2 separate regions of the Homo sapiens genome follow, and region 1 is linked to region 2. Evidence: fine-mapped expression QTL. A gene starts in region 2. The other region holds a variant in brackets. All regions are shown on one strand. Distances are from middle to middle.

Region 1 (5,379 bases), 26 kb before region 2:
CAACACTTCCCCTTTCTCCCACTCTTGGGTCTGCAATCAGGAGACCTCAAGGGAATCAGGGAGACTCTCAGGGTGAGGTTGGTAAGTCTTGTGACAAATAAACACTTTTTATGTTTCTACTCACCGCCTCACCTGCCTTGGTCTGGATCTTCTCTAATTTTCCTTCTTGTCTCAGCTAGAAAAGAAAGTTAAAGATGAAAAGCAGTAAAAGAAAAATGAGCCCATGTTAAATAGCATCAAACTATTCCTATGTTGGACATTGGCTGGGCTTCTGCATTCCTGTTCTTCTAGTTCCTATTTCATTTTCAAGTTAAGTTAAATGTCAAAGGGAAGGAAGCTGCAAGAGAAAAGAAGTTTTATCTCCCCAAGTCTCTCTGTCCTTCCTTTGAGCTCACCAATTTCTCCTCTTCAAACAGCTTCTTGTTTTCAGGGGATGCATATACAGCCAGTCCCTGAGGAAGGAGTCGATTCCGGCCTAAAGATTTCTTCACTGAGACCAGGTCACCCCGGACTCCAACATCTGTCAATTAGAACAGAGACAGGGGAATTAGAACCATCTAGGAGTCCCTAAAGAAAAGATGTCAAAAAGAGAAGCACCTCTTAGTTTCTCACAGTGCTTATTTTTCCTAAAAGAAATGCTAATTCATATTCACTAGGAACAAGATTTAAGAGACTGCTAATTAGTTTCTTTAGAACTTGATGTATAAATTTAATATCCCCTGTATAGAGGGAGTTGTCGTCCCATGGAGGATTTCAGTATCTGTGGCACAAATTGTCAGGCTCCTCTCCCCACACACTGTTAATGATGTTGCTGCCTTTATGTTTTAATTTTCAATGCTGGAGGCCAGTGTCACAATCACAATAGTTTTTATGGCTTCCTCTTCTCACATATAGAGTTGGATTGTTTCCACAAAGAAAAAGCAAGGCAAATAGTTGAGGGGGACGGGCTAGAAAAAGCTGATGCCAAACCGGACCAGCCTGAGAGGAAGCGCCTCGGCCCGGGCCTTACTCTCCACCGACTGCGTCAGGATGAGCTCCAGGTTTTCTTTGGGCCGATGCTTCGTGTCCTCCACCAGCTTATAGACGCGATGTCGCCGGTGCAGGCGCGGCTTCCGGCCCTCCCCGGCCAGCGGTACCTTCCACCAGCGCTCCACGATGACCGTGCCCTGGCGGCCAGGAAAGCGACGGTAAGCTAGTCTCCACAAGGAACACCCTCTCCCTCCACCACGGCCGCCAGCCCCTCAAGGAAAGCCCGCCACCCCCACATCGGCCCCCTCCAGGTCCCAGTGCGCCTCCAGAAACAATACTCGAGCGTATCTACCCCCTACCCCAGACTCAGCCCTCACCCGATTTTGAGAAAGGCTGAAGTTGCAGGCCAGGTCAGGGGCGTTCCCTTCATGTCGCGGCCGCAGTAGCTCCTGGACGCCTCCCCGAAGCAGCCGTCCAGCGCCCGCCCGCAGCAGAGCTCTGCCCGGGGCCGTGACAACGGGCGCCGCCATGTTCACAGGCACAGAATGAGACCTGAGGGAGGACCCCGGCGTCGGCGGCAGGAAAGGCCCCCGCCAGTGCTGCCTGCGGCGCGCCGGTACGGCTGAGCGAAAGTATGGGGAGCGGGCCGGGGAACAGATGGCACCGCGGCTTGCCTATTTTTGCTTTTTGGCAGAGGTGACGGACGCCTAGAATTACTGACTGATAATGGAATGAGTGTTAGGTGGACTGACGCCGGAAAAGACGCTCTTCCTCTTGAAAGTGTGGGCTTTGCTGTAGCTCCAGTTGCTGGGCTAACTTTTAATTCTAACGTTCTGTGATGACTGGATACTGACCGGAGAATGAATGATGCTCTCACTTTTCCTTACTTCAAATCTACCTAAAAGTGGTAAAGGATGGGATCCCTTGGAAAACTCTGCCAGCTCCAGGAGGAGCCTGACCCTTAATCATTATACTGCAGTATTTAAGCTAATAAAGGAGAATTCTAAATCACAAGCTATGTAAACCGTAGAAAAAAAAGCAACTATGGTAAGGCCGCGACAGTTCCCTCTGGGGAGGGTCTCAGTACTGGACAGAAGACCATAAAAACTGGATGAAAGAAGGTCCATTTGGCAGAGATTATGGAAAGACTGGCCCTTAAACATACTGACCAGTCCTCCTTCCTCCTAAATACACTACTTGGCCTCCTGGACACCGGTCTTCTTCAGTCTCGTTTGCTGATTTCTCCTTTTCTCCCCGCTTCTTAGAATGCCCTCGGGACTCCGTTTTTGAACCTTTACTCTTCTCAGTATACACTCACTGTTGATCTCATCCAGTCTCGTGGCTTACAATACCATTTATAAGCCAATGACTCCCAAATTTCTAGTTCCATCCTAGACATCTCCCAAACTCGTCTCAAATATTCAACTGTTTATTCGTCATTTTCCTCTTACGTATCCAAAGGACACCTCAAAGTTAACTGTCCCAAACTAATTTATTTATTCCCCCCTCGCCCCCAAAACTGCCCCATCTGCAGCCTTTTTCCTCTCAGTTGACAGAAACTCCATTCTTTCCATTCTAACTCTTTTCTCTCATACTCCATCAGGAAATCCTGTGGGTTCTACCTTTAAATTACAGATAGTCCCTGACTTGGATTTACAATTTTTGAGTTTGTGATGGTGTGAAAGTGATGTGCACTCAGTAGG[A/G]CATCAATAAGTTACATGAAATATTCAACACTTTATTATAAAATAGGCTTTGTGTTAGATGATTTTACCCAACTGTCGGATAAGTTGTCTGAGCATGTTTAAGATAGGCTAGGCTAAGCTATGGTGTTTGGTAGGTGTATTATATGCATTTTCAACTTATGATACTTTCAACATACGATGGGTTTATCAGGACATAACCCTATTTTAAGTCAAGGAGCACTTGTATTTCCAGAATCCAGCCACTTGTCACCACCTCCAATGCTCTACCTTGGAATAAGACACTACTTTCTCCTGGATTACTGCAATAGTCCCCTAAAAGATATCCCTTAATTCTCTACAGTTTATAATTCTATGTAGCTTATTTATAGCAGCCAGAATGATCTTTTTAAAGCATAAGTCAGATCATGTCATTCTTCCACCCAAAACTTTGTAATGACTTCCTCCTTTACTCAAGGTAAAAGAAAAAGGCCATCAGATGGTCTACAAGGCCATACATACTCTGACCCCATTAGCTCCTCTCTAATTTACACTGCTCCACCCACAGTGGCCTCCTTGTTTCTTGAAAACACCAGGCACGTTTCCTGCTCAGGGCTTTTGCACTGGCTGCTTTTGCGTTGGATGCTCTTATCCTCAGATGCTGGCTTGGTTAACAACCTCACATCCTCCAAGTGTTTAATTAAATGTCAGTTTTTTTCAGTGAGAGATCACCCTATTTCTTACTGTAACCCTGACCCATCCCCTTCACATTCCTTATCTTCCTTTATCTTGCTCTATTCCCCCCACCCCATAGCAGTTACCTTCTAACATACTAAACAATTTACTATGTTTATTTTCTAGGTTTGTCCTCTCACTTTTAGAAGATACGTTCCATAGGGCAGGGATTTGTTTTGTTCACTGATGTATCATCTCAAGCACCTAGAATAGTGCCTGGCTAATAGTAGACCCTCAATAAATATTTGTTGAATGGATAAATATGCAGAGGTCTCAAAGTGGCAGTCCCAGAACCAAATTTTGCTTACAATGTTGTTTTTTTATCAACAATTTTTTAGTAGTTGATTTTTTTTTTTTTTTGAGTTGGAGTCTCGCTATGTTGCCCAGGCTGGAGTGCAGTGGCACGATCTCAGCTCACTGCAAGCTCCGCCTCCTGGGTTCACGCCATTCTCCTGCCTCAGCCTCCCGTGTAGCTGGGAATACAGGCGCCTGCCACCACGCCCGGCTAATTTTTTGTATTTTTAGTACAGACAGAGTTTCATCGTGTTAGCCAGGATGGTCTCGATCTCCTGACCTCGTGATCCGCCCGCCTCGGCCTCCCAAAGCGCTGGGATTACAGACGTGAGCCACCGTGCCCGGCCCAGTAGTCGATATTTTTTAAAATTGGTGAGATTTACTACAAAACTGTCTTTCCAGTTTCTGTTCAAAAATCATACGATACAGCACCATCAAGTCTGCATTCTTGCATGGAACTGGATGGAATTGAGTTGTGTGGACTTCCTTTAGATAACGTGTGAGCTTTCCTATTTTGCTACAGCCCTACCCTGCCACTCCACTAATTTCCATAAGCTGTCTAGGCCCCTGAAGGGGCCTAGACAATTAGTTTGCAATTCCTACCCTACAAGGATCCTGGGTTATTAAGGGTAGGGATGATAATAAAAATACTCAACTGGTATGAACTGGGAACCAACTAATCAGGTCACCACTGGATCAGAGCCTTGGAAGAGTCAGATACCAACTCTTTACTTGCTGGATTTTGGGGGAAGGGGAGTGTCCACAGAGGAGCAGGGTGGGTGGGCACAAGTGCTCAGGCAGGGCTTTTGGCCAACCAGTACAGAAGTCTTCAAGTTCTATTTTTTAATCATTCATACAGCCATAACATGCATACTAGTCGAATATGAGCCTTGGATAAGGGATTAGGGTAGATAAGCAGCAGAGTGGAGTCCTGAGGTGACATAAGGGCTGACCCCTTATCCATGTCATAGTGCCCACTGGGTCACAATGCCACCAGGTTGCCTAAACCTCTGCCACCCACCTGTGAACTTCACTTTGCCACAGGGAGGCACTGAACTGAAAAACTGCCTTGTAAGAGGTGTCGCCCCTCTGTCTACTCCCTTTCTTATATCAAGAGGGGAAAAACACGTAACTACCTCTACCCGATCTGGTCACCATACGCCTATTACCTTTACTGTTACAAGTACCGGATCACTCTCCGGGAGAAGATGCTGCCTCGTTGTTATAAAAGGTACTTGTTTTCATCTCTATTTGTAGTTGTTTATATAAAATGTAAGGAAAAAGTAAAAGAATTTGAAAGAATTTCCCAAATGGCAAGAAATAACAACAGAATAGGGGGTGGAAAGCTGGCATGGAACTTTAGAATTTTTCCATCTGGTTGGGCCCAGGAACATAGAAACAGGCTGGACAACAGAAAATACAGAAGATCATGCCAGAGCCTGGTACTGTGTATCTTCCCACCTCAGATTCCAAGATAAACTAATTTGGGTCTCTTTCCCAACCAGCATCACTTATAAGGAAGAGGAGGACTTGACACTCCAGCCCCGTTCCTGCCTCCAGTGCTCCTGAGTCCCTAGTAGGCCTCCAGGAGGGCAAAAGCACCGAGCAGGGTAACCACGACCAGCTTAAAGAACTGTATTCGGTAAGTGGACTGTGAGCTAGTGCTGTGACAGGGCAACCCTTTTCTTGCATACCTTGCAGA
Region 2 (5,379 bases):
CGCAAACCTATACTACATGAATGAACTGCACTAAATGGACATTTATTCAAGCCAATAAATATCGAATTCTGATGTGTGCTTGACCCTCGGGACACAACAGTCAAGATAGATTTGGCAGCTGCCTTCATGGAGTTTCCTGTCTGGCAAGGAAGATCTTGACAGGCAGGAGTCTTTAGGTCTTAAGGGCTTTGGGAAACTGAAATCTAGCCCTGTGAACAAGAATAAACTGGATCTGTATTTTCATGCTGTCTGCTTTTAAAAACTGGCCATAATTGATGCTTATGGGGCATAGAAATCACAAGATTTTATAACTAGAAGGGACTACAGAACTTATTTGATTCCATTAATAACGTTGCAATTTGGGAAACTGCGGCTAAGGGATAGAAAAGGATTGATCTAAGATCACACAGCTCATTAGTCATTTCTACACAATACAGTGTGCAATAGAAATAAGTCTGTTTTGATGGCCAGTCATAATCACACCTCTTTACAGAGGCCCAAAGGACTAGCAGCACTTTTGTTTTCCAGTTCTGACACTATCAAGATCAAGTGCAGAGGGGTCTCTGCAGCCAAGGCCCCTCAATCTCGACCCCCTACACTGGGTTGAATTACATTGCTATGGGTTTCCACAGAATCCCCAATATCCCTTGATAACACATGCCATGCTTGTCATTCTTGATTAACATCTGTGTCCGTGGTGAGGAGAATGAATTGAAGGCAGCAACCGTGGCTGCAGGAGACCAATCAGGGCCTAGTCCAGGTGTCAATGATGGAGATGGAGAACAGATGAATTGGAGAGTTTGTTGTTGTTTATTTAGAGACAGAGCCTTGGTCTGTCACCCAGGATGGAATGCAGTGAATGATAATAGCTCACTGCAGCCTTGAACTCCCGCAGTCGTCCGGCGTAGCTGAGATTATAGGTGCGGTTTTGGCCGACTTCTATTTGAAGCAAAAGGTAAATTTCACTAACTCCTCTTCAAACATTACAAATGAATTTGTGCTAATTGAGTTATCAGCTGATGTCTCAAAAAATGAGACTCTACTTGATCTGTCACTATGGTTTTGTTCACAATTTTCATATCCTTTCAGCTATAAGTTTCTCTTAAAGAGAAATGGAAAATAATATAATGTAAACGGGGATAACTGCATAGTACTGACTGCTAGCTTGTGTTTGATTTTATTACTTAAAAATTGAATGGGAAGGAGGAAAATACTAGAACTTAAGACCACAGTTTCTAGGGGAAGCTAAGAAGAGAAGATGAGGATCATTGTTCAGTGAGGAATGTGGTTAGATAATGGTTTTCAGTGAAAGCTAACTTTGAAATTTCCTGACATTTGTATTGAACAATTGCCAAAAACTATCTGATATGCATCGCTAAGGCTTACTTTATCATTTAAAATGACAGGAGTCAAATAGGATGTGATGAGAAGTCAAATCACATTGTTAGCTCCATGAAAGCATAGATAACTCATTCCAGTATCTCCTAATAACCAGAACCTACAAAGAACCTACAACATGGTGACATGCTTGAATCGAAGCAGCTCAATGTTCTCATCCTTGGTACGTTTATTTTAAATTCACGAGAAAAAAAAAAGTGTCAACCCCTTTCTCTCAAAACAAGGAAAGGGTCTAAAAGTCAGTCTTTGAAATAGGGGTCTCCAGCCAACCCCCACGATGATACCTGGATTAAGGAATGAGGGATACTGGAAAAACAAAAACCCCAATGTATTATTCTGACGACTGTAAACAGCCATCCTATTAGCGATAACTAAAGAAAAAGCTGGGGAAAGTTAAAGGCAAAGTGATATACGGATGGCAGCTCTCAGTCTCAAAAAGGCCCAGTGGAAGAGTCTGAACTGACTCAGGGCAAACACAAACGCTCCCGCACCGGGTCCGTTGTGGCGTAAGCGGGTGACTGGAGCATCTTCCTCAGATACAGTTACGAGTTCCCAGTGGGTCAAGTTGCCCCCGAGCGGCGTCTCACAGCCCAGGGCTCTGACTCCCCCGCTGCGCCCCACATCCTTCCCTCGCCCCGGGGCACGCCAGACCCCTCCCTTCCCTCGCTCCCGCATTTCCGTCTCCTAGTGGCCAGGGCTGCCCATGACCCTGTCTTTCCCACTCCCCAAACCTTCGGTCTCCATCCTCGCCTTTACCGCTGCTCCAGTCAGCCGTCGAGTGCGCCGCCTCGCGCCTCACCCCAGCTGCAGCCACCAGCGCCGCCGCCTCCCACTCACACCACCACAGTGAGCCCCGCCGGCGGCGCTTCAGCCGCCACTTCCCCGCCCCCGCAGCCCGACAGCACCAATCAACACCCTGCTCGCAGTCCGACCAATCGCCTTCTCCCGTCACAACCAATCCTTCCGCGGGCTGCCCCTGAGCGACGTGGCTGCTGCTAGCCGCTGCCCAATTACCCGGATGGAATCCAAAGCAGGCCCACCCTGTCAGCCAATAAGATCCAGGAAAAGCAGATGTTGTTAACTGAGACCGCACCTGCTGAGAATTAAACAGCCAATTACAAGCTTCCCGGCGTCCTCGCAGACCACCTCTAGGCCAATTACCGAGGAGTTTTCTATCTTCTAACCCTTGGAGGAAAATCTGCGCTCCAGCAGCTGGGACCGAGGCATGAGAGCGTTGAATCATGAGTGGCACCGTTCGCAAAAATTGGTGTCTTTGTACAAAGACAGTGCCACAACACAACTCAGTGACCATCGGGAGAGCAGCCTCATGATGGGCGATGCTCCATCAGTTTTCTCTTGCGATCTTTTGCATAGATCGGTCCCGCCCCGCATATGGCGATGAGGACTCAAGAGACACGGAAAACGTTTTCTTTCTGGAAAACATGAAATAGGCTTTGTAGATGGACAGGAAGTCAAGGGACAAGCGGTGCGCCGCAGAGAGCGAGGACCCACTCTTCTATTCCTTTGCGGAGGCACGGACACACGGTGTGGCCCGAAACAGCGGCAGGAGAGTGAGACCCGGGCTCCGACCGCGGTGGTAAGGGGGCGGCGGGCCATAGGGGCGCCAGGGGCCCACCCTTCCCTGGGGATTCGAGGAAACGGGTCGAGGCGACAGCGTGAAGGCCTACGCCGGGGGAGGGGGTGGTGGCGGGGGGCGTTTCTGTGGGGGCGAGGAAGGGAGCGGGTCTCCGCAGGCGGAAGTTTGCTTTGGAAGATTTTATTCCAGACGCTGTCCTGGTCCCTGGACGGTTAGGAACGGTTGGGTCCTGCTACTGCCTCCGTGGGGCAGGGAGCCTCGCGAGACCAGCACTGCGCCCTACTCGGTCCACCCTGTCCCCGCTCCGCGCTAGGGGCTCACCCTGGGAACAGGGGTCGGGCGATCCTGGTCATTGGGGGATCTTCCGCACTAGCTTCCATCACAATACCTGGCAGGTGATGAGCAATAAATATTTGCTGAAAGAACGCAAGGTTGTATCTTTTGTCAATTAGGCAGATGCCTTTGGGCCTCAGGTTTTGCTTTCTATTAATATAAAAATGTGTATGCGTTTTGAATAAGTAATACATTTACATTCTACAAAATTCAGAAGAAACAAGGTTATTATAGTGAATAAATTTTCCTTCCTTCAAGGCAACTAGGGTTACCAGTTTCTTGTGAAAAATTTCACAAGATATTCTATAGTTAACGTGTGTATATGTGTAATATATAAAGTGTATATATATATACACACACATATATTTTTTTAACCCAGTTGATAACATACATACTATTTTGCAACTTTCTTTGATACAGTCTGGAAATGTTTCCGTAGCAGCATATACGTATCTGCCTCATAGTGATAGTTTCATAGTATGCCTGAGGGATATATGAAGATATATTTAACCAGTCCTTTAACATTTGATTGATATGCAAGGATACTTCATTTCCCTCTTGCATATGTGTATGATAAATACTTAGAAATGCAAGTGCCAAGTTAAAGAAATGTGTGCATTGTTTTTTCATTTGGATAGATAAAATTTTGTAAATTCCCTTCCTCCCACAAAGATTTTTATAATTTTAATCCCACCAGCAATTTTTGAAAATGATTTTAGTTAGTATTACCAAATTGCCTTCCCTGGAAATTTTACCAATTTTGTCTCCTGTCAGCAATGTATGAAAAGAACCTGTTTGATAGCACACTGGTGCTGTTAAACTTCCTGATTTTTGACAATCTGATAGTGTAAATGCTATCTCATTGCAAGATAAAATTTCATTGCTCTTATAAGTAAAGTTGAGCATCTTTTAATATATTTAAATGGCAATTTTTTTGTAAATTCTCTGTTTTTATATTCTGTTCATATTTTTATTGGTTATAGGGTCATTTCTTAATACTTGCTGTTTGTATATAAGTTAAAAGTATTTTCCCCGGCCAGGTGTGGTGGGTCACGCCTGTAATCCCAGCACTTTGGGAGGCTGAGGCAGGCTAATCACCTGAGGTCAGGAGTTCAAGACCAGCCTGGCCAACATGCTGAAACCCCGTCTTTATTAAAAATACAAAAATTAGCCGGTTATGGTGGCAAGCGCTTGTAATCCCAGCTACTTGGGAGACTGAGGCAGGAGAATCACTTGAACTGGGGAAGCGGTGGTTGCAGTGAGCCGAGATTGCCACTGCACTCCAGCCTGGGCAACAGAGCGAGACCCCATCTCCAAAAAAAAAAAAAAAAAGTATGTCCCTTTTCCCAGTTTGTTCTATGTATATTGTTTATACATATAACAAGTATTTTCCCTTTTCCAAGTTTGTTCTATGTATATTGCATATTTTGAGGCTGGTCTCCAACTCCTGACCTCAGGTGATCAGCCTGCCTCAGCCTCCCAAAGTGCTAGGATTACAGGCCTGAGCCATTGCCCTCAGCCTGTTTATGGTTATTCTTTGCAAATGTTAAAAATTTTTATGTAATTGAATTTATCAATATTTTCTTTGATAATTTCTGGGTTTCTTTCTTTCTTTTTTTGAGGCAGAGTCTCATTCTGTCGCCCAGGCTGGAGTGCAGTGGCATGATCTTGGCCCACTGTAACCTCTGCTTCCCAGGTTGAAGAGATTCTCGTGCCTCAGCCTCCTGAGTAGTTGGGATTACAGGCATGTACCACCATACCTGGGTAATTTTTGTATTTTTTAGTAGACTCGGAGTAGTTTTGCCATGTTGGCCAGACTGGTCTCAAACTCCTGGCCTCAAGTGATCCACCCGCCTTAGCCTCCCAAAGTATTGGTATTACAGGCGTGAGCCACTGTGCCTGGCCAACTTCTGTGTTTCATATAATTTTTAGTAAAGTCTCCCACTATTTAAGATTATTCTTAAAGCTCCTATGTTTTTTTAAAAAGTACTTTGATAGTGTCTTTGTATATGTAAATATTTGATTCATCTGGAATTTATTTTGGTGTAAAG

The links.
Region 1: its variant is fine-mapped to the expression of TDRKH in whole blood (TOPMed, PIP above 0.99).

The regions. Positions count from the first base shown.
Region 1 is chr1:151,761,981-151,767,359 of GRCh38, forward strand. MRPL9 (mitochondrial ribosomal protein L9) reads right to left here and starts at 1,516. Exons shown (of 7, transcript NM_031420.4): 1 at 1,347-1,516; 2 at 1,010-1,166; 3 at 396-520; 4 at 125-175. The coding sequence starts at 1,499. OAZ3 (ornithine decarboxylase antizyme 3) reads left to right here and starts at 4,675. Exons shown (of 5, transcript NM_016178.2): 1 at 4,675-4,908; 2 at 5,183-5,319. The coding sequence starts at 4,742. It also overlaps a transcript of TDRKH not described here. RefSeq lists an enhancer at 1,287-1,666. The variant A/G (reference allele first, on the strand shown) is at 2,673.
Region 2 is chr1:151,788,251-151,793,629 of GRCh38, forward strand. It overlaps TDRKH (tudor and KH domain containing), which reads right to left and starts at 2,250. Exons shown (of 13, transcript NM_001083965.2): 1 at 2,130-2,250. It overlaps TDRKH-AS1 (TDRKH antisense RNA 1), which reads left to right and starts at 2,499. Exons shown (of 2, transcript NR_146292.1): 1 at 2,499-2,995. RefSeq lists a silencer at 1,935-2,194.